Linked DNA regions of Homo sapiens: all the other regions are linked to region 1. The links come from fine-mapping of genetic effects on gene expression. A gene starts in region 1. Each other region holds a variant in brackets. All regions are shown on one strand. Distances are between the middles of the regions.

The links. PIP is the estimated chance that this variant, and not a neighbour inherited with it, causes the effect.
Region 2: its variant is fine-mapped to the expression of PELI2 in tibial nerve (GTEx, PIP 0.99).
Region 3: its variant is fine-mapped to the expression of PELI2 in whole blood (TOPMed, PIP above 0.99).

Annotation. Positions count from the first base shown.
Region 1 is chr14:56,115,257-56,123,443 of GRCh38, reverse strand. It overlaps PELI2 (pellino E3 ubiquitin protein ligase family member 2), which reads right to left and starts at 5,033. Exons shown (of 6, transcript NM_021255.3): 1 at 4,707-5,033. The coding sequence starts at 4,783. RefSeq lists silencers at 4,556-4,625, 4,916-5,175, 5,216-5,275 and an enhancer at 5,406-5,645.
Region 2 is chr14:55,970,162-55,978,348 of GRCh38, reverse strand. No RefSeq gene overlaps it. Among named protein-coding and RNA genes, the nearest start is that of PELI2, 140 kb to the left of the region's middle. The variant A/G (reference allele first, on the strand shown) is at 3,975.
Region 3 is chr14:56,298,077-56,306,263 of GRCh38, reverse strand. It overlaps PELI2 (pellino E3 ubiquitin protein ligase family member 2), which reads right to left. Exons shown (of 6, transcript NM_021255.3): 6 at 4,740-8,187. Among named protein-coding and RNA genes, the nearest start is that of LINC02284, 8.8 kb to the left of the region's middle. The variant G/C (reference allele first, on the strand shown) is at 4,138.

The DNA.
Region 1 (8,187 bases):
GATCACCCCACATGCTGAGCTACAGTAAAGATTTTGTTTTATAAATTTTTTTAAAGTTCAAAGACCTTTTAGTCTATAAAAGATACTAATGTTTGATGTCTTTGGGCCCAAATTAGAGTGGAGGATGAGAAAAGGAAAAGTGTTAGGGTATATTTGAAGGTTTCTTATTGCCACCAAAGGGTGGAGTAGTCAAGGCAAAGTGCTGAGGTTACAGCAACAACAAAAAGCATACAGAAAGTGGGACCTGCTTTTAAAAAAAAAAAAAAGACCATAAACTCTACAAGCTACTATACCCCTCTTTGTCTTACCTAACAAAACACTGAATCATCCAAAGGAAATGAGGCAGGTATCTACCTCCTTTTGTAGAGCTTATCAATTTCTACTAAAATACTTCATTTTTCAGTCATATTTAGTCATATTTATAAATTTTCATTTGTAGAGGTTCTTACCCTCTTTTTGTGCCAAGAATCCCTTTGGCAGTTTGATGACATGTAATGAGCCCTTCTCAGACTAATGTTTTTAAACATACAAAATAAAATACAAAGGATTACAATTGGAATCACTTATACTTAAATATCAAAAGTCTTAAATTGCTATACACATGTGCACTTCTGTAATAATGCATTAAATAACAAAATCTAGCAGCAAGTCTTTTTGTTGCCTACACTCATAAGTGAATGAAAATGCTAAACTGCAGTTTGAATATCATGAAAATCAAGACATGTTTTTCCCCCATCTAAGTTCAAGAATGTCCCGAACTCCATCTGTGGACCCTAGGTTAAGAACCCTTGGTTGAGAGAGCCAATAAAAATACATTTTGTGAAGCATCAAAAGAAAAAAAAAAAGTCTTGCAAAATGCATTATCCATTCAACTGTGAGGTGAGAGGAACTAAGAGAGTAAGCAATATTTTTCCAAAAACCACCATGGGCCATTAGTCAGCAAGAGAGCCACATGCTTCAAATTGAATCCAGAAAGGATGCTTTGAGGAACTGACAGCGCTGCTGGAATCTGTCTTAAAGTGAGGAAAGGGTAGAGTAGGGGAGTACAGCCACCCAGCTCAGCCCAGATCAACTATGAACTTGAACCTCTCTTGTTCTGGGAGCCTGTGTCCTCAAGAATAAAATATAAGGGCTAAACATATACCATGACCATTAGGCCCCCTTCCAGTCCTAATTTTTTTTTATTATACTTTAAGGCTGGAATACATGTGCAGAATGTGCAGGTTTGTTACATAGGTACATACGTGCCATAGTGGTTTGCTGCACCCATCAACCCATCATCTACATTAGGAATTTCCCCTAATGCTATTCAGTTCTAAATTTTTATCATGAGATCATCTCCTCTTTATGCTGGTTATTTCAGTCTATTTAGCTAAATTTCAAAACATCACTGTCTTTCTTAAACTTGGAACATAAAGTTTTACACAATTTAAATGCTCCCATGGGTAACCTAACACCAATGAGTCAAACAGATGTATATCATTACAACTTTTTTAAACATTCTGTTTTTACGCACATCTTCATAAAAAACAACCACAGCATTGATCTTTTCTGCTATTAAAACAACTGTCAGGGAACTTAGAATATGTAACTAAATAGTTTCTACATTTGCGCCAATGAACAGAATTACTGAGCACAGACCAGGAAGGGCTCTTGAAGCCTACCTAATCCAATCATATTTTGCAAATTGATAAAGAAACAGAGAGGAGGAGGAGGAATTAAGCCAAAGTCACAGAGCCAGTCAGCAAGAGAGAAGGGCTTATTCAGGTCACCCACCTGTAAATGCATGTTCTTCCCACTATACCAAACTGCCTCTCAAATCCTGAGCCACTTCCCTAACCTTAAAACGTAAGTTTAAAATTATAGCAAAAAGACCTGCTGGTTAGACCAGTCATTTTTCTCTACCTTCAGTTAAGTAGTGGACACAACAAAGAGTTGTGGCTATGATACATTAACTGGCTGGAATCATGAAATAATTAAATTCCACTAATCAGCCCAGAAAGTGATGAGCTCACTAAAATCCTAGCTATGTGGAATCTCTTAATAATACTGTGTAACACACAAAAAGATATAGAAGTATTTAGATATGGATATAGACATCTATCAGCTCTTCATTCTGCTCTCCAGGATTTCCTAGTAATGTTTCACTATGACATTCGAAAGTGAGCAAAAAGGACAGTCACATAACCATTAAAAAAAAAAAAAGCACTGAATTTGACAAGCAAAGCTTCTATCAATACCAAATATTAGGCATTTTTAGATCTCAGGAATCATCTCATTATTCAGAAAATCTACTTGAAATTTTCTGTTTTCCAATATTTATACCCCAGAGGACATAAAGATAATATCATAAAGATGATATTAATTCTATGTGAATGTTATTGTTGTTTTAAGATGAAGTACACTGTCTCAAATCCTAAGGGTGGAATATGAATAAGGTTCTCTCTAAAAATCTTCCTACCTAGTCACTCTTTCACCTGCACTCTTCAATGTGTTCAACATTGGTAAACAGTCAGAAACCTACCCTCGAAAAAAGAAAAATACCACAATTCAAGTATTCAAAAACCAGACTAGCATCCTCTACTCACATTTCACCTCCTCAGAGAGAACTTCCCTCACCTTCCAGCCGAAGAAACCAATACCCACCTAAGCAGTCACTCTCCAAGTTTATCAACTCCTCTTCAGAACTTGGCTGCACCTGAAATTGTCACTTATTACTCCTCTATTTGCATGTTTCTTTCTGTTTATGCCTGTCACTCCACTCTAAAAGGAAAGTTCCCTGTTCTCACTGCATCAGCAATGCCTAAACAGCACAGGCACAGAGTAGGTACACAAACGACGGTTGAGTGTCTCGCCCCCTAAGTGCCAACTATGTCATACTTTGGTCTCCTGGAAAAGCATTAGCAAAGGGCAGACCATATGCAACTGCAACGTTATATCCCGGGCTCCTGTGGAGTGAGACTATGATACTAGGACAATCCAGGGTTTCAATCCTTTCCGTGGCTTCGGAATGCCCTGCACTTCCAGCTATGAACACAAAACCTCTCCAGGCCCACTCGCTGCTTTTCTGAAACATCTCAACAATGATTTCCTCAAAAGGAAATAATGAAATAAAGTTCTGGCATACGTTAATCTTCCGCGTCAAGTTCACAGTGTTAAACACACTGAAGCCAGCCACACAAACAAAACCAAACTCCACAAGATTAGGTTGGGCTGAAGTTACATAAGACAGACTAAACTGCGGCTTTTCTCCTGTCATTCCTCCCGCCTTCCTGTGAACCCTGATATTTGTCTTTGAAGTGCAATTAAGATGTAGGTGAGAAAAACACTTATCTGCAAACAGCTTCAAAATAGGTAATGAGATTTCCAATACCACCCCCACTTAATGCACTAGCAACAAAGTCAGGAAGACTGGGAAGCTTTGAGTTGTGCGGTGTCTGGAAGCTTCCCTCAAAAACTCCTCTCTTTAAATTATTTTTAAGTCAGCACTTACTTCAAGGCACTCACTTATCAAAACACGTTTTGCAAAGTTCCCTGAGTCTTCCCACAGCCATGACTCCTCATATGTGTGCTAAGCCTACCTATCAGCGCCGAGGATGTTCTGAATACAGGTCTTTCAACGCAGAAGGACAAAAGCGCGGGTTCCCAGAGCGACACATCCAAAGGAAAAAATAATCCTTTCTTCAACACTAAACCCAAGTTGTTCCTTCCCCCCAGTTTCCTGCACTTCCCCCTTCCCCCTCCCCTTTCACTGCCCACTATATCCAGTTTTAAGCCCGCAAAGCCTCTCTCCTGGCTTATTAAGGGTAAACAATAGAAATGTCACAAGGAAACTCAGGAAGTAGATGAAGTCTCTAATTGCTGCCGTTTAACGATTGTACATAATTACTATCTTCAAGATGCGGCTTTCACCAGCAGAGAGGGAGCCGAGGCGGGCGAGGCTGGCGAGCTCCCCGCAGCCGGGAGGGCATCAGCGAGGCCGGGACCGGGGGGATACGGCCCGCGCCCCGGTGCCAGGCCCCGAGCAGCCGCATCCTGTCCCTCCCCTCCAGAGCACTCCAAGCGGGGAGAAGCGGAGGGCCGGCCGGCCCGGGTCACACACAGTTCACTGCTCTCGGGCTGCGGCGGCCCGCGGCGGTCATCGGAACAATTTGCAAAGCGCAGCCGGGGATCCCACAGCCCGCGGCGGCCCAAGCTCACGGCGCCGCGCTCGGAGTTCGGGGGCGCGGGTACCACGGTCCGCGAGGGAGGTGGGAAGACGGGGCTCCGCGCCGGCCGGCCTCTCAGCTTCGGGAAGCGACCCCGCGAAGCGCCCGCGACCGCGGCGCCTCACATGGAGTCCCTGCCCGCCCTCCCCGGCCCGGACGCGGCGCGCGGGAAGTGGAGCCCCTGCCCCCGCCCCCACGATACGGCCGCGGACCCGGTGCCCGGCGCTGCCCCCGCTGGGTCGCCCGAGTTCTGGCCACTTCCTCCGCCGCGTCCTCCGCGCGGACAGCGCAGCCCGGCGTCCGCCGCAGCACCCCGAGCGCGCGCCGATGGGGCGCATCCCGCCCCCGCGCCGCCGTCCGGGCCCTGAGAGCCTCTCCTGCCGCCCCGAGCGCCCCGGCGGTCCCCAAAGAGCACCGAGCCACCCCGCCAGCCCCGCTCCAGGATGCGGGCGCTCCCCGCCCGCGCCGCTGCCCGGGACCAGGGACCCCAGGACTCACCCGAGCACCACCAGCTCCCCGTATTTCACTGGCTCCTTATTGGGGGCGCAGTGTTCCTCCTGGCCAGGGGAAAACATGGAGCCCCGCTCGGCCGCCGACGCCGCCGCCGACGCCGCCGCCTCCGCCGCGATCCCCGCCGAGTCCGCGCCGCCGCTACAATCCCATCCCGAGAACGGGGTGAGCGCGCCGGGGAAGGGCACGGCGGCGAAGGGGGCGCGGGGCGGCCAGTCCCGCTGCTGCTCCGTCGTGGCTGCGCGGCTGCTCCGCCTGACTCCCCGGAGCTCCGCGCGCCGCGGCCGCCCCGAGTCAGAGCCGGCAACAAATGGGACCCGGCAGCAGGGGGACCTGCCTGCGCTGAGCGCCGCCGCCGAAGCCCCGCGGGAGGGAGGGAAGGAGGAGGGAGCGGGCGCACGAGAGGCTGGGGCCGCGCGGGGGAGGCGGGGGCCAGCGCGCGGGCAGGTGGGAGCCGCCCCGCCCCACGCAGAGCCAGGCGCCCGCCCCCGGCCCGCGGGGCGCCCCCTCCCCCGGCGCGTGGGGCCGTCCGCGCCCACTCCCCGCCCCCCTCGGCCCGGCGGAGGCTCGGCCCCTGTGTTATGTAAACATAGAGTAAAAGGGAAAGGAAGTTCTTAAAGGAGCAGCTCTGTTTTTTTTCCTCACTTCCTTCCCCAAACTTAGAGCGCGGGGTCCTCAGCCCTCGCCGCCTGGTTCTTCAGCCGCGAAGGCCCGCGGGAGATCCTGGAAACGAGCGGCCGCGGTTCCCAAGCCCACGTTTTCCTGGCTGGAGTTCGATGGGATTAACTTCCTCTCCGAGTAGAATAGCGCTCTCTCGACGTCACTGTGTCCCGGCTTACAACTAGAGGTGTCGCACACACCCACTTGGGTGCCTCCCCTTCCAAAACCAAGCAGAAAGGCGTCTAGAAAATTAGAAGGTTTTGCCAGTTGGTGCTGGCGTAGAGGACGTTTCGAAGGCGCTTGGAGCACCCCACCGTTGCACTGGATGTAGCTACCCCGGCTTGTGGTCAATAGAGCTCCACCTGGCTTTTGGGGGGTGGCGGGGGGATGGGGGAAGAGTTGTTTTTTAATCCATACTTTATCCACTTTTCCTGTGCCTTCTTTCCATCCCCTAATACATACAAGGGGAAATTACCTGGGTGGACTTTTTAGTGAACGTAAATGTTCCTTTATGACCGTGATTTAATCAATGCACTGTTTGCTTTCTATTCTTTTTAAACTAGTTATTGCTATGGCTTTAAAATATCGTAGACTGTATAGTTTTACTGACTGCTGTTTTTCATCATACAGGATTTTATTGTTCTAACATTTATTAAGCACTCATAATGTGCTAGAAACTCTACATATTATTGCGAGTCATTGCCTCTCAACACTGTTAAATATTTAAAGAAATAAATACTGCAGAAGCTACCCTGTGTATAGTGACTGGTTGGCTATGACCCGAAGCAAAGGGCTAGAAAAAATAATAATTGCATCTGTAACCTTCCATTCCGCTGTGCTGCACCCCTTGTGTAACATTCTCTGACAGGTTATTACGGTAGTGACATGATGTTTCTGATAATTTTACTTCAGTTAGGAACTGATTTTTTTAATTGAGGTTTTAGAAATAAATTATTCCAAAGTAACTAAAGCCACACCACTGGTAAGCCAAAAATAAACTTTATTAAACAGTTAACTTATTTCAGCTAACTATAGAAATTCTGTATTTCAAATGAATATTAGTTATTCTGCATATATTACGTATTCTCTATATTTTTTATATGTAATAAAAAATCTGTTACAGTTTTAACCAGCACTCCTTCACTAAAGGGATAAATCATGTCTCCTCCCCAGTGTTGATGTAAATTTCTTTCAAATTTCTGCTGGATTAATGTTGTCTTCATGTACTCTGTGCATCTACTTACCACATAGATTGTATGACTATCAAAGATCTGTCAGAATCATTCTGCAGTTGCGCCGTCACGATTACGATGATGCCTGCCTCTGTCACCCTAGCTTCTCTAGGCCTCCTCTGTTGCTGCTTCTGCTCTCTAGGCTACCATTACCTCCTTCCTTCTCTCTTGGCCTGCTGTGCCTGTGTGCGTTGCATTGCATTATACTGTTCTGGCTGCATTTCCTCCTTGCTGTGCTTCGCATCTGCTCTTAGGAAGATAGAAAGAAATATGTATTAACCTCCTACTAAGTTCCCAGCACTAGGCTGAGAGTTTCCCATAGGATATCCCAATCTTCCAAGGCCCCCCCGTCTAGCTATCTGCCTGTGGCACCCCTGACTTCCAGAGGGACATGTCTCTCTACTCTCCCAACATGTCTTTGAGAATGTTTATAGTACTTAATCAGGTCTGTCTTTATCAGACTGACTTACAGGAAGTGTTGTTGTGAATGAGTTTTTGTGTCAATGGAGGCTTTTTATCCTAGGCAGCTCAAGGCTAGATCAGCTCTGTGAATCACTCTGAGCCCTGAAAGCTTCTGACTGGTAAGAGCAATTCTATTGATCACAGTCAAGAATACATACAGGGACCAGGCATGGAAATCCAAATGAGCAAATGGGCTGAGTGAGGACTGTGGCACATTGGTAGGGTCTGTGCCGTCTACAGGGCTTATCTGTCACTCATCTCTAGCTGATTGTTGCCATGTGACAATGACAGTTCACTCTTGCTAGATGTAATTTTTCTAAAAGCCTCAAATCCTGATTACACCAAACCTCTCAATTTTTAACTGTTGGCAACTCATTCACACTTTCAATTTTCTTGAAACACAGCATGAGCCCATCAAAACTATGTCTGTTTTTCTAGACTCTATGTACCCAAGGTCCCCACAGTTGCTTTCTCTGATTTCAAGGAAACAGACATGAGTAAAGGTAAAAACACTTCTCAAATGGTATCAAATGGTAGGGCTGGGGGGATGGCAGAGTGGTGAGGGGTGTTAACTTGATTTTCTCAGAGCGTTGATGGCTTGTGTTCCTAAAGAAGCCAGCGTGTGACTTTCTCTGTGCATCTCTTATCAGAGTTATTTGCTCACAACTTAAACCAATTAGGACATGACCCCATCATCCCCAGTTAATATTAAGAATCTGATTGTAGCATGGATTTATCCTCTCTTGAATGTAATTGTTTTAGTGAGTTGCTCCAGGCTGGTGGGACAATCTGGCTGTGCCATCTGCCAACCCACTAAGAGCCAGGGTGGGCTTGGCTGACTTGATTGCCAGGGCAGACCCTTCCCTGCTCTCTCTGCTTGCCATTCCATTTATGTCCCTCACCCCAGACCACTCTCTTGAAGAGGATGACCCGCCCACATCATCCCAGAGGGAGTCTGTGCTATTTCTTGGGCTACCAGAGGCCATATGCTTACTATACAAATAAATAATGTAAGGCTTTATCTTGACTTTTCCCCAATTGTGTCTTCCTGTTTTGTTAAAATCAAAAGATTTAGTGAAAAAGTGTATGTTTGTTTTAAACATACCTAAAGTCAG
Region 2 (8,187 bases), 150 kb after region 1:
TATCAAGGACTGGCCAAAAGAAATAGATCGGTTTCGCCTTGGGCCATTAAATTCACACATCAAGATTATGTCTTCAGGGAACCGGAAGACATTGGCAGAGGACTTCCTGTGAGCAAGTCATGGTGCTAGAGCCTAGGGTTGAGTTCCAACCTTCTCACCCACAGTCTGGGTTCTGGAGTCCATTTCCACTATGTGGGATGCATCATTGCTATTAATATTTATCTTTCTTGGGATCTTATTAATGAGCCAATAGACTGATAAACACACTCAATCCATGCACCATATTCTTTGATATGATAAAGCTAAAGAAGCAACATACTGTTACTTGGCTAGAGGCTGCTGTGCTCTGCCACCTAAATGTGCGCCAACATTTCTCCATGGCTAAATTAAATGACTAGTGGGAATGAGAGTCCATTCACGTTTGGCTCCCCCCATCTCTTTTTCTTAGTAGTTACATCTTTTTAACTCATTTCTCCCTCAAACAAGTGAATTTTCCTTTCTATTGCAGGTAATCTCTTGAGTTCACTGTTATGTCCATTTTAATTCTTGCATTCCCTTATGAGATATTCATTCTAAATGAATTGCTATCCTGTCAGTTACATAGCTTGGCTCCTGGCATGGGAATTGTATTTCTTTAATGGCTTTATTCATCTAAACATATTCTTTTTAGAGATCTCCATTATACCCCAGTCCTTGGAGGGAGACCTGGCAATTGTAGAATAGGGCCTTTGGCTGCCAAGAGGCCTGAGAAACAAATCTGAAATATTTTAAAACTAAAAGAGCTCATGAACTGATGCGTGTCCTGGATTGACTGTTACTGGGCTCTCAGCACCAAACACAACACAAAACAGCAATTCTTCTTCTTGGCTGTCAGGGTGCCAAATGAGTTTTTTCTGTGCTTAAAAATGGACAGAGGTTTGCAGTAATTGAATGAAATAACGTACAATAATTTTAAATATTGTTCATTCGGAGAGAGATTAGGCTTTAATTAAATGGTGTCATTTAATATACCATCCAGCAGATACTGTAATTGGTTTCTTTAGCAGAGAACACAGTAATATCTGAGCTTTACTGAAGTGATAACGGTACTAATTTAGCTCAGTGGATACATAAACAGCATGGCTGCCTCTGACATCCCCAGTGAACAAGAAGTAAGCTATGATCATGACACCTGCACAACTCTTAATCAGTCATTTCTTTCTGAAATAAAATCAACAATCACTCAGACTAAACAAAATCTGTTTACATTAAACAGGTTTGATATCTGGGATTTTTAGGGCATTAAGCTGTTCATTTCTTTGAATACAAAAAGGTAGGGCTGTCTTCAAAGTAGTTATGAAATTACATGTCATTTTAGCAGGAAGAATTGCATTTATTATTTTTAAAACCTGATATAAATGCAAAATAGCACTCACCGGTCCGTTCAAAGAGGGCAGGCAATTTTCTGGCACCATAACAGTTGCATATTTTAACTCCTATCTTCTCTTGGTCATTTACAAGGACATGTTCATTTCCAGGCTTGGCTCCTGTTTCCTCATTGCTCATTCCTGAAACGTGATACAATAAGGTCCTATTGTCTTTAAGCCATTCTGCTTGACAATTCTGTACAAAGCCAGAAAGGAGGTTGGGGGTTGGGGTGGGGTGGGGTGGGGGAATTTACCTGAATCTAAATGAAAGAAACAAATTACCTTCCAAGATATAATGCCCCAGACATATTTCAAAGTCACCAGAGATTAGATTACATTCCTTTTCTAAATTCTTTGTTTGCGAAAATATATGCACTGCACCTAGGGATGGAAAACTTTCATTTCCCTGTTTGCAAATGACCGTCCACATGTTTATTTTGGAAAAGAATGGAAACATTGATTATAGCAAAGAGTTGGCTGGATTGCAGTGTCATAAAAACAGTCTGGCTCTATCACTGGGTGGAGAAACAGAACTGGCAACCACTGGATAGGGTCCCTGGGGTGTGACTCCACCTTTATAGACTTTCCAATGGGTTATCAGCGATTTGTCACAGCGCTCAGAGCTCCTCCCTGCCCCATCCAAACTCAAGGAGGAGGCCGGGTGTGGTGGCTCACACCTGTAATCCCAGAACTTCAGGAGGCCAAGGGGGATGAATCACCTGAGGTCAGGAGTTCAAGACCAGCCTGGCTAACATGGTGAAACCCCATCTCTACTAAAAACACAAAAATTAATGGGCCTGGTGGTGGGCCCAGCTGCTTGTGGGGCTGAGGCAGGAGAATCGCTTGAACCTGGGAGGTGGATGTTGCAGTGAGCTGAGATCACACCACTGCACTCCAGCCTGGGCAGCAAGAGCAAAACTCTGTCTCAAAAAATTAATAAATAAATAAACAAATAATTAAAAAAAAACTCAGGGTGTTCCCAGGCTCATCTTCAGAAGATGACAAATGTAACTGGGGACATAGGAATGACGATAACGCTTCCTATTTTTAAATTGCATCCTGAAAACTCAAAAATCAGGATAATCTCAACAAACTCAGGAAAGCTGGCAGCCCAAGTTGGAGAAAAAGACCCTGAGCTAAATAAAGGCTGCCCCAGAGGCCGCTTGTGTCCTCATGGTTAAAGGACAAACCATGCGGCAACACAACCCACATCACAGTCCAGCTGTCATGGGCCATTATATTAACTGATGGTATGAGTGAGCCACCAGGACTCCTGCACTCCTTGGGTTTTCTTCCTTACAAAGCAAACCACATTCACTGGACTGGAGAACAACCACAAGAAAGCTACTATATTCTGAACAATTAGGGCCTCTGCTTTGCTTCCCTGAAAATGACTCTTTAAGCCAGGGTCATCCAGTTGCCACCAGAGCACCATTCTGGACAAGGCCCCATTGACCTCTTTGCCAAATCCAGTGGCCTATTTTCAGTCATTGCCCTTCTTGACCTTTCTGGGACAATTCCAATGGTTAACTGCTGCCTTTCTGAACGCTCCCCTCCACCGGCTCCAGTAACTTGTGATACACTCTTTCTCCTTTTTGAGTGCCAGAGTAATTGTTTTAGAATGTGGATGTGCTCAAGTTATCCCCCTGTTTGAACCTTACATTGGCTTCCAGCTCCTACAAGATAAAAACCAAAACTCAGTGGCATAGCACTACAAAGAAAGCTACAAAGATGGCCTCAAACATCCTTCTATTCCTGCATTGTTGCCTGAAACTTCCTTACTGCCATCTGTCTACCTAATCTCTCTCTACTTATCTCTTTCTCCCTCTCTCTCTCAGAATTTCCTGTGATTATCTCAGCATTCTACATTTTCCCAAGTCTCTGGGTCTTCCTCCATAATGGGACTCAAGTTATGTCTCTAATCTAAACATGTAAACTTCCTCCAAGCCCTTTCTGGCCCATGCAGGTAAGGTCTGCTCTTGCTTTGCCTGTCATTGGCACCTTGCACAGAGCTTAACATGTTACAGGTATGTGACATATGTTTGCTGCAATGAGTTAAGTTGATGTCCCCAATATTTAGTCACACTGTTCCTCATGTCTCCACTGAATGTTCTGTGTATCTTAAGACTTACAAATTTTAACGTGGCCTTAATTAACTGGATAGGAATTATATCTACCAAAACTAAGATTTTGCAGGCCAAGGACCTTAGCCTGGTGCTTGGCACATAGTAGGCACCCAGGAAATATGTGCTGGGTGAGGGCAGAGACTCTGGAAAGTGGTCCTGGTGAGCATCCAGAGTGGATTTCCTTCTGAACTCCTGTTTTCTCCCTTTCTCAGGGTGGCATTTCTATAACTTTATCAGTGTCTCACAGCAGTCTGTTGAATTCTGTTTCCTGGATTCCTGCAATGACCCAGCAGTCTCAAAGCCAGCAAGGACCAGTGTGGCATTTCACCCACAGCCTCACTCACAGTCTCCTTCAGGGCACACCAGAGCCTAACACACACAGGATAAAGAAGCCTGTTCGAATCTAATCAAAGGACTGCTTCATAAGTCTTCATTTCCCCAC[A/G]TTCTCTGCATTCTCCTGCCTCCTCCCTTAGACACCCACCAGGAAATAACAGCAGCCCCACAAGCCTGCAAGATAAACCCACTGGGATGACAGCCATTCCCCACAATTGAGCACACTGCCTCGCAAGATGCCCATACATTTTGCATTAAACACAGTGCATTAAATTAAAAATGAAACTTAAGTTGTTTGGTTAATGGCTTTCCCAGGCCTGAGGTTGAGACCAGACCACTGATCCATCTCTTCAAGAATGTCAGCTGGTTTTGCTGCTTGCCAGACAGTGTTTAGCTATTATGTGGCACATGAAGCACTTTCATTCATTCTTAAACCTAATGTCCAATTAAGTGAGAAAGGGGATTCATTAAATAATTTAAACTAGATCCAAATTAAAGGGCAGTTCTCTCAGTTGTACTTGCAAAAGAGTCCAATTCAACTGAAAGAATCATTTTAAACCAACGTTTGTTTGGGATGTTCTCAGATATAGGTAATTTTAAATCAGCTCCATTTATATCATCTTTTCATAGGTAACTTAAGAAAATCTAGCCTGTGGCACCCACATACAACATTTTCTCCCTGCTAATGAATTAAACTTAATTCTTTGAAAAATTACACGAGTTTTGGTCAAAATTATATGTTCAGCTTTTACTTATGAGGACCTGTTACACTGGATGAGTCATATTCATTGCCAAGATGTGAGAAAAAAAAAACCGTTGAGTGCCATAGGGAAAACTGGTCAGTTGTAGACATCATTTATATCAGTTTATTCTTAGAAGAGCTGAGAAAAGAACTCAGAACGTTTGACCTCTACTTCCGTACATTTCTACCTCACCTGCTTAATAATTTCCCAGGAAGACCTGTAGCCCAGAGCTGAGCCATAGGAAATGCAGTTTAGAGGGTTCCAGTCAATTAACCCACCAGGTATTTGCAGAATGCATTATTGTGCTAGGGAAGGCAAGAAGAGAAAATTAATCTCCTGTTCCTGAAAGTTGGTTTCTCTAAGTTTGTATGCAGTTCTTAATGCCAATTGGAAATGTAACCTGTTAAAGGTGGCAGAAAACCTGCAAGCATTCCTCTCAAGTCCAGGCCTTGACCCAGGCCACTGGGGCTTCTACAATAACTCCTATCTTGCACATTCCACTAAGGGAGGAGACCACCCCTCCTATTGTCTTATGCCCAATTTCTGCCTCCAAAGAAAGAAGAAGTAAAATCTAAAAGGCAGAAATGAAATCCACAGGCAGACAGCCCGGCACCGCACCCTGGGCCTGGTAGTTAAAGATCGACCCCTGACCTAATCGGTTATGTTATCTATAGATTACAGACATTGCATGGAAAAGCACTGTGAAAATCCCTGTCCTGTTCTGTTCCGTTCTGATTACCGGTGCATGCAGCCCCCAGTCACATACCCGCTGCTTGCTCAATCGATCACAACCCTCTCACGCGGACCCCCTTAGAGTTGTAAGCCCTTAAGAGGGACAGGAATTGCTCACTCGGGGAGCTCGGTTGTTGGAGACGTGAGTCTTGCCGAAGCTCCCGGCTGAATAAAGCCCTTCCTTCAACTCAGTGTCTGAGGGGTTTTGTCTGCAGCTTGTCCTGCTACACCACTACGCCCTTTTCCAAACAGTGATTCCAAAGAAAAGTACATAAAAATCATCCTTTCAGCAGGCCTTCCTTGGATAACCTAAGTCCCAAGTTCACTTTCATGACCACCTGCAAAACTCTCTGGGCTGAGGGAGCTGTTCTTACAGGCTAATTTGTGCCTTAACTGGATGGGAATTATATCTACCACCTTTTTCAGGTGCAATTTCACAGACAGACTTGGTGGGCTTTGGATTTGTCTTTTCCTCTCTTCAGTCAATGGAATAATAATGAAAATAGTTATCATTATTATTTACAACAAAATATTTATTTCCAGGTGCCGTCTTGATATTGAGCAGATAATTAGCACAGCCCTCCCCTCCCCCCAGGGAAAATCAGGCTGGGGCCAGCCCAAGCCAGAGCCCCCTCTTCATGCTGTTCCATGCTGCTCCCAATGCTGGTTTCCAGCTGCTCCCCTTCACAGGGGCTGCCAGCAGTGTCTTCTGGCAACTGTTCCTCCTGGGGCATCTCTCATTACAGCTGTACCTTCCACCTTGCCTGTCCCTTGCCCCAGTCTATCACTTGGGAAATTTTCAGCTGCTCCAGTCTGTGGCTTCTCTTGCCTCCAAGAACAAGTCTATAACTTCCCAGGAGCCGGAAAGCTTCATTTACATTCTCAGCACCACCTCCAGAGAGTGACTTCCCAAAGGGTCCACTCAGTGTCTTCTAGAAGCAGCTACAAATGTCTGCGTCCCCTTTAACAAACATTAAGAGAAAGAAAACCACAGTGACATGTATTAAGAGGAAGATGGCTACACAGCATTTTTACCTGCATATTTATTTTCATTTTCACAAAAGTCATACAAGGTAAGTGGTGTTATTTTATAAGTGAAGGTCATGGCAAAAAGCCCCAAATTCTTCTTCTGTTCCTCTGCCCTCTCTTTCACTTTTGGAAGGCATAAGGAAACCTAATTACTCTGCTCTTGTCACTTCTTGCCCCAAATCATCCATGATTCCCCAGAGTCTGTGGAATAAAGTCCTAATTCCTTACCCTAGGGCACAAGGCCATATACAATATGATTAGGCCTGCAATATGATTTCCCATTTTGTTTCCTAGTCCTCTCTTATATGCATGCTGTGATCTAGGCAAAGTGAATTCCTGAGTGCCTCCCACTTACCCATGTATGACAGACACCATGATGCTATGAGAAAAGCATTAGATTTGGATACAGACAGATTTGTTCAGATCCCCAACTCTGCCCTTAACTAACTGTTTTACCTCAGAAAAGTAACTAAAGCCCTCTGAGCCCCAGTTTTTAAAATCAATGCATTCATTTAAAAAATACTTATTGGTGAACAAAGAGACTTAGTTCTTGTAGCTCTGCAGCTCACCCTCTGGGTTGGAGTGGAGGGATAGGGGAGTTGCTCAATCTGGGTGCTGGTCCAGTGAGTGGTGGGCAGTCAGAGGGAGGTACAGAGGAGAGAACTGAAAGACTTTGAGTAACTGGAGGCTGGAGGTGCAATGGAGAATGGTCCCAAATGAGGCTGGAGAAGGAAGCAGAGGTTGGATTATGAAGGCTTTTTAAGCTTTGTTCAAGAATTTGGACTTTATTTGAAGGGAAATGAAGAGCAATCACAGGGTCTTAATCAGAAGAATGTGACCCAGTTTGCATCCTACAAGGATCTCTCTGGCTGCTGTGTGGGGAATGGATTGGATGAGAATGGGTGGGAGGGTAAGACCAGGAGCAGCAATGCCAGCTAGCAGAAGGTGGTTGCAATAGTGCATGAAAGATCATGTGGCCTGGACCAGGGACAAGGCAGCCAGGCACCAGGAAAGTGGGTGGACTCCAGGGATGTTTAGAGGTTGGGATCAACAGGGCTGGATGATGCTGATGGGCGGAGTGGGGAGAGGCAAGAATCATGAGCAGGACTCAAGTTTGGGCAACAGAATGGACAGTGATGCTATTAACTGAGACAGACACACAGGACACAAGGGAGCTGGAGCCAGAGGAGGCAGAAAGAAGTGATGAGTTCAGCTTGGACATTTTGAGTTCAAGGTGGTTATGGGACAAACAACAATACCACTCCATGGGGCTCTTATAAGAATTAAGTGACATAACATATGCAAAATTCTGGCACCCGGTGGATATCCACCAAAGTGTAGTTTTCTTTTCTGTTTCTCAAACCATTTCCCTTGCCTGGAATGCCCTCTTTCTCATTTCCATAAGTGTGAATATAACCCATATTGCAGAGCCCATCTCAAAAATCACCTTCTAGCACTTCCCCAACCTTCCTAGTCAGAAGCTTTCCATACTCTGACCTCCCAGAGCATATGCTTGACCTTGCATTGTAGTTATTTGTAGCTCTGTCATGTTGCTCCTATAGCTATGGACATTTCATTAATGATAGAACCCATGCCTGATTGACCTCTGACCCTCACAATGGCATTTGGTAATAAACAATAATATTTATATAATAATAAAAGAATTGTTATGTATGTAATAATATATATTGCAATATACCATTTACAATGTATAGTATATTATAATAAAATATAATCATATTAGTGTAATAATTCAGGGAGCCAATACAGTTATTACTGAATGAATCTGTATATTTTGCCAGACCATTTTTCTCCTGA
Region 3 (8,187 bases), 180 kb before region 1:
CATTGATCACACTGGCTTTGTGTTTTCTAATTTCAGCCATGATGATTCAGACTAAACTAGTCATTGAAATCTTCATTTTCTGAAGCAGTTTTCATCCTAAAGACTCATGAATGTTAAGTAGAGAATCAAATCCATTAAAAGATCTAACTACCATCAATTGGTTTAGATAAAGAAGGAGTTTTCATCTAATGGAAATGTTGATGGAAGGCAGGAACTTGAAATTTGGCTAGTTTATTGGGTTTCATTGCATAAATTATGGCAATTTAAATGAGTTTTTATTCTTACCCTATACAAGAAACTAACAAAAGAACTGGTAAAACTTTTGGATGCTTTCCATCAGCAGCCTAGGGTAATAATCCAGCTTGGCATCCATCCAATCCAAGAAGTGAATTATTCCAAATAAATAAACTAATTCTAATAACAGAATAGGGCTTCAATATCATAAAAATAAATATATTTAAAATTGAGAAACATCTACCAACTGAAAGGGTGGTGCATTAATTGTCAATAGTCTTATAGTGCGTTTTCAAATATGTAGTCACAAGTATATTTGCTATGTCTTTCTTTTCATAAAATAAAGTTATTCCATGGTCATCAGTAATACCATATTAAACTGTTTTAAGTCATAGAGGCTGTGATACAGAGTTTTGCATAAGGAGTAACAGTATTTTTCTGTGAAGATTAGGGTTTAGAACCACATGAATAGCAATAACATTGGGTTCATGCTTATCTGTTTTCATTTAAAATAAATTTTGAGAATGTATGGCAATAGTTCCACAATAGCTAAATTCTATCAATTTTAGCATTCACGAAGAATTCAAAATACCTTATATGGGGAGAAAAAAGAAAGTCTGCAGTCAAATGAATTTGGGATACAGTAGATTATTTTTCAGAGTTATAAGATTATATGACTTTTTTTGCAGAGAATTTCTGGGACTCAAAATTTAAAGAAAACGCTTTGGGTAATGTTACCGCAAGGGAATAATATAAGCAACTATCATTTAGCGAGCACTTACTATATAACCATAGTGCCTGTATTATGTTGATTTGACTACATCTCTAAGGGGTAGAAACACTATCATCACCTCTATTTTATAGATAAGGAAATACTTGAACTCAATGAATCCAAACAGCAGAACATTTCCAGAATGTATACAGAAATCAAACTCTGAAATTAAAAAAAGTTCCTTTCCCAGTTTTATTACGAATACATCACTAGATGATAGGAACCCAAAGCCTGTGAAATATGCCCTGATGACACCCAGTTTGCTTACCCACAGCAAGTTTCTATCAGGTTAATGAAAATTTTGAGAATTCAGCAAGCTTCCCGCACTATGTACAAAAAAACCTCATCCTTAACACTGAACTCTTTCAAACCAGTTTGAAAATTTCTGGAGGTTGTTCTCCTGTAGAGTGGAAATGGTTAAAGGCACGAACTAAAAACCAATGGCAAAGGATGGGGAATGCAAGTTTAGAAAAGAGGCAAAGGAGTTAAGAGAGTCAGATCCATTCACCTAAGAGAAAATCGCAGCTAGACTGACGGGGCAGGAAGGGCCCTTGTTTGGCTAGGCCATCCATTCCCATCTCCATGTGGGGCCACATGCCTCAAGTTCCCAGGAAACCACATTGGATGTGCCAAAACCAATGAGCACAATGGGAATTTAGTAACTTGCACAGCAGAGGCATACAGTCAATACAATCATTTAGCCGAAGAAGAATTTATCAAAGTATAGAACATGGATCACCTGTAACATCATCTAGGTTGTCTGTCCAAAGTGAAAATTCATGGAGAGAAACCTAGAAAATTACAACATCAGCCTCTGTAGACGCAGCTAAGGAGTCTGCATTTTAAGCAAACCTCAGGAAATTCTGATGTAAGCTTAAGTTCAAACCTGAAATTAGGCAAGAAAGAACTCATTATACTTCTTTTAGCTAACAAGAATAACCTTGGTATTCTTCAACTAGAACCTGTTTAGAAGACAAAAGAAGGAAGTGATGCTTAAGAATGGTCCATTTGGGCACTCCAATGCACATCCCATAATTAGCAGTGGGTGTTCTGGGCGGCACAACAGCTTGAAAACAGTTTGTTCAGGCTTACAGCTCCGCAGCCATAAGAAGCACGGCCCCATTTTGCAAGCCTCAGACACATTCCTGCTACCGACATCCAATTTAAAATTCTTATTTTAAGTTCAGAAAGACAGAGTCATGCACCACATAACAATGCCTCAGTCAATAATGGACTGCATATATGACGGTGAGCCCATAAGATCCTGATGGAGCTGAAGAACTCCTGTTTTTACAGCTAACCTGTTATACAGTAGGAGTATATTCTAAAATAACTATAAAAAGTACAATAACATAGTTATTATCAAATATGTACTGTACTAATTGCATGTGCTATACTTTTATATCACAGTGCAGTGGGCTTGTGTACACTAGCATACTAGCATCACCACAAATACATGAGTAATGCACTGTCTCAAAAAAAAGAAAAAAAAAATCTTAGGTAGATCCTTTAGAATATGAGTTGTCTGGTGGTTTTTTTTTTTTTTTTTTTGGAAGACTTATGTGTATGTTCTCTTTTTTTTAAACAGGTGGTGTTTGGTTATATGATGTTCACTTTATTTAATGACAAGTAAAAGTGTAAGGAAATTGAGCTATGTTGTCACATTGTGGAAAACATCTCAAGGCAGCAAGAAACTGGATAATCCTGAATATTTTTACCTGAAGGACTAAGTAAAGATCATAGCATGGTGGTTTCTAAGACACAAACTCTTCATAATCTAACATCTCTGAATTTAGGATGCATGTTTTCTTTTAATTTTTATTGAGATGTTAATTCACACACTATAAAACTCACCCTTTTAAGTGTATAATTCAGTGGGTTTTGGTCCATTCACATATTCACATAGTTGTATAACCATCACCACTGTTTAGAACATTTTCATCTTCCCCCAGATAAGCCTCATGTCTACTGGTAATCACTCCTTATTCCACTTTCCTTAACTCCTGGCAACCATGAATCTACTCTGTGTCTCTGTGGATTTGCCTATTTCTTACATACAATATGTTACATATAATATGTTGGCTTTTTCAACTTAACATGTTTTCAAGATTCATCTATGTTGTATGTATCAATATCGTACTTCATTTTTATTGTCAAATAATATTTCATTGTATGGATATACCATGTTTTGTCTGTCCATTCTTCAGCTGATGGACATTTATTTCCACTTTTCGGCTATTACCAATAATGCTGCTATGAACGTTCATGTACCTATTTTTGTGTGAACATGTTTTCAATTCTGTGTATATACCTAGCAATGGAATTGCTGGAGTACATGGTAACTGTACATACATTTTACCTCTTGAGGAATGCCAAACTATTTTTTCCAAAGCAGCTGCATCATTTTACAATCCCACCAACAATTTATGAGTGTATTTCAACATCCATGCCAACATTCATTATTGTCTTTTTGACTTTAGCCATCCTAGTGGGTATAACGTGGTATTGTGTGGTTTTAATTTGCACTTCCCTGATGGCTAATTGTCGAGCCATGTTTTTATGTGCTTACTGGCCATTTAATACATTCTTTGGAAAATGTTCTGAAAAGTTATAAACTTTTGATCGTCTTTTAAAGAGGTTGCATTTTGATGAGTTGTAAGAGCCTGTTACATATTTTGGACCCAAGTTCCTTATCAAATATATAATCCCTAAATATTTTCTATTTTGTGAGTTGTCTTTTTACTCTCTTGACAGCGTCCTTCCATGCACAAAACTTTAATTTTGATGAAACCCAATGTTATATATTTTTTCTATTTTTTTCTTGAGACGGAGTTTCGCTCGTCGCCCATGCTGGAGTGCATGGTGCGGTCTCGGCTCACTGCAACCTCTGCCTCCAAGGTTCAAGCGATTCTCCAGCCTCAGCTTCCCAAGCAGCTGGAATTACAGGCGCCCATCACCACGCCCAATTTTTGTATTTTTAGCAGAGACGGGGTTTCACCATGCTGGCCAGGCTGGTCTTGAACTCCTGACCTCAAGTGATCTGCCTGCTTCGGCCTCCCAAAGTGCTGGGATTACAAGCGTGAGCCATTGTGCCTGGCCTTTTTTCTTTTGTTGCTTGTGTTTTTACGTTT[G/C]GTATGTCAAAAATCACTGACAAATCTAAGGTTACAAAGGTTTACATTATGTTTTCAAAGGTTTACATTATGTTTTCTTCTAAGAGTTCTATAGTTGTAGCTCTTTGACCCATTTTGATTTAATGTTTGTATGCTGTGTGAGGTGTATTCCTTGCCCAATGGAATGTAACTTACAATTATAACCAGTTGTGATTTTCTATAACACATCTCACAATTCGTGGCATCTTAGATTTGACAAAGTATGGAACACTTATCCCCTGAAATAAAAGCCTATATAAATGTGCATTTTTTTTCTGGAAATGAAAAATCTGTTTCTCTCAATAATACTAAAACTCTTTGAATATCAATGTGATGAGAACAAAATTTGTCATAAATATATACATTTTCTTATGATAGATATATTAGTTTAAGGCTTCAAGGAAGGCTTGAAGGCTTATACACAATCCTTATTATGTTGTTAAAAGTGAATGAAGACTGTCACAAGAGCAGCAATATGGCTGAAATGATCATGACAAAAATCCATTAATTCTACAAGTCAGGTTAAATTCCCCTGGAAGTTAACTTTATTTGACAGTGATGTAATGTCACGAGAAATAGTAATATAGGCACCAAGGAAATTTCTTTAATTAAAAAATGTAGGGGATTTTCAGAATCAAGGTTTAAATATGTATTGTGCAGAATATAAAACAATTAATAAACTCAACAGCTGGAGATTAACTTGGAAGTTAGAGAAGTGAAAAAAATCAGTTCTACTCGTATCAACCTACTAAATGTCCTAATGAACTCAGTGACAACCACAGAATCTGAAGACAATGGCTCACAAACAGGCTGATATCCATTTAATAGTTTTTGAAGATTTTTTCCTGTAAAATGGCTTGTATTTCCACAGGTACAATAGTGAAGAAATAAACTTTTCAATTTGACATGAAATATAAAACAACAATTTTACAAACATATTCATAAAATTTAACTGCTAATAACACAATACATGGTAAATGTGACCATCCCCTTAACTTCTAGACTATTTAATACAGAGAAGCAATCTGTCATCTCAGCTAAAAAGAAACATCTTTCCTTTCATTGAGTTTATTTTTGTTTGTTTAGAAACTGTCAAGCAAAACTGGAAAATACTTATTTTCCTTATCTTCCTCTAGGGATTCTTCATGAGGGCAAAGACTTATTTGAAAGGATGTAAGTTATACTAAAAAGAAAATACTGAACCTTTTTTTTGTGTTACTGCTTCAATGATGCTTAGATTATTTTAAAAAGATGCTGAAGTCGTCTCATTGGTCGCACAGAAGGAGGCGCATCATAACCTAAGCCACAAAGGCTAAACTACTGGGACAGAAGATTGACAGTAAAGGGATGGAGATGGATTTGGCTTAAAATCAAAGTCCTGTGGTTTGTCTATCAGAAATTCCACTGTTATGAGGCAAGGCTGCAAGAAGATAGTTTTTACCCAGCATTAACAATGGTGTAATCACACACCCTTTCAAGCACATCCAAAGAACAGAATGGCTTTAAAAAAGAAAAGAAGTGAAACAAAACCATAGAACTGCAGGTAACAATTCTACAACCTATATTACACTTCAATTAAGCAGAAAACTCTCGTAAGTGTCCACACAATACTGAGCTCCCAAATAACAGAGGTTTGAGTTTTTCCATGAAAAAAAAAAAAAAGACATTGAAGCTTTATGAACTAAAGAGTTCTCCTCAAGTTTCCCAATACAGTAAATGTAATAACTTAAAATAATTTCCCTATTGGTACTGGAAAATAAATTCTACTACAATCATGTTTATGCCAGTTTCTGACATATTTCTGCATCCAGATTCATTAGTCTCCTTAATGGAGCCCATCATTTTTCCAATGGCTTTCTCCTTTCTTTAAACCCTAACCCTGAAATTCTATAACCAGTTATATCACGTGGCTTCCCTGAGGCACAAAGGTACCAAAGTCTATAATTAACTATCGAGGAATGATAAATATGTTCTCTATTTATATTAACAGATTTTAATTCTTTTGGGCCACAGTTGGGAGAAAAAAATCCAGAAACCTTAATACTCTGCAGGGTGAACTGTAGCCCTTTTTGCTAAAAGCTGAACCAAATAAGGGAAATGTTGAGAGTTGCAGCATGCATGACCCGGCAGCACCGATTATTAATAAAAAATTCCGGACTAGAAAAATACTCAGAGTTGTACTCCATCCACTCTGAATCTTTTTTTTTGTAGTAAACGACATAAACAACTGAAAAATATTTCTATGGGAATACATCACTGGGACTTTTACTTCTGGAAAGCTACTTGCAAAAGGCATTAGAGTCAGGCCAAGACAACTAATTGGTCTGCAATTTCCTTGTGTATACACATGGGGGAGTGGGGCTAGTCCTTTAAAGTGATGGCAAGACATAAAAAAAGAAGTGACCTTGGAGAAATTACTTTTCTGAATTGCGTTTCTCCACCTTGGTGAGCTACAGAGTTCTTTATTTTCACAAACTAACTCAACTGTGAAAAAAAAAATCTCCTTAGTCAAAATTGTAAAGGGATCTTCCTACAAGTGGCCAAGAAGAGCCTGGTGTCCTTTTTGCTGATTTGCCACCTCTCTGCAGTTCCTTAGGCAGGGTGGGCGGGACCTGACTTTGGAAGCCAAAGGAAAAGATGTGGAGCCCATGGAGGGCGGTTCACTGTTACCCCTTCCAAGAGCTTGGAAATTATTTCCCAAATTTCAACTTATATTTAAGCTGAATTTACTAAAAGTCAGAAACTTTTAGTTAGACATATGCCCAACTACGGGACGTGTCCAACTTGGAAGGTAACTTCATTTTGGGGGATATGTCACGTTGCAGAATGACTAGACTTATAAACAGGACTTGAAATGGAAAATTATGATATACCTAACTCTCTGGAAAAATATCTTTTTTTCTTGGTAGGTAAAATCTGGCCTTTCTGGATGCAAGACCATTTAGCTTACAAGATGGTTTTAGGGCATCAAGAATCCTTCAACCACTTTCTAGGCATACAGCAAGAAAAGAGAACGAGTGCCTCCTTTGTCATTCTTTGGGGCCCAAAGAATTACAGGCTGAAAAGACATACTCTATCAGTGAAAGCTAATCATCAGAGACTCTGGCTAAATCAAAAGGCATTCAATATATTATTCTAGGCAAGTCCATTTTTTTCTTTCATTTTCTGTCTGCAGGTAGAGTAAGCTATACAGAATACAGCAAGCTATCTGTAAGAGGACTGTTGTCATCGATTTTCACACCATTTAAAATTTACCCAAACAAAACCAAAACCAAAAATGTCTCATCCTAAACAATGATCTCCACTGAAAAATAAAGCTATATTAAAACTGAGAGGCTGAACTTTAAACATATTACATCAAATTAAGCAGCAGCAATCAAGAGTAATATTATCGTATCACTTTAAGGAAAAGCGTATTCAAATAGGTTAGAACGACTGAAAATAGGCAAAATATTTGCCAGTAGGCAAAATACGAAAAAACCAATTCAAGTATGGATATAGTACATTAGAATCATATAAATTACGTATATGTACAAAGGTTAAAAAAAAGTCACCCAAATCTGCAATGGTCAAATTAAGAGAACATTAGTTTAAATAAATACTTATTTTATCTCAGCCAGCTTCTACCAGTCTCATGTCCTAAAGGATCTTTACCTTCTAGGAGCAGTGATACGATCGATGCCAAGCATCCAAGAATTATTAATCAAAATGAAATGAAAGTAACAGGAATGGTGGAGCTCCTATGAAATTCTCATTTAATTATTCCTCAGCAACACTCATTTGCTCTCTCAAAAGCAGGAATTTTGAATTATCTCTGCAGATGTACCACTTGGTGTTGTGTATATCTAATCATCCCACTTAAATTTAGTTTGATTCGCAAACATTTTCAAAACTTACTGGGCTCCTTAAGCTGCAAGGGAAGGTGACAGATGGTGAAAAGGGAGTGCACAACAATGACTATATCATTGTGATTGGTTGGCTTTCTTAACAAAGGAAAAAAAAAAACCCCAAGCTTTATGAAACCTCAAGTGG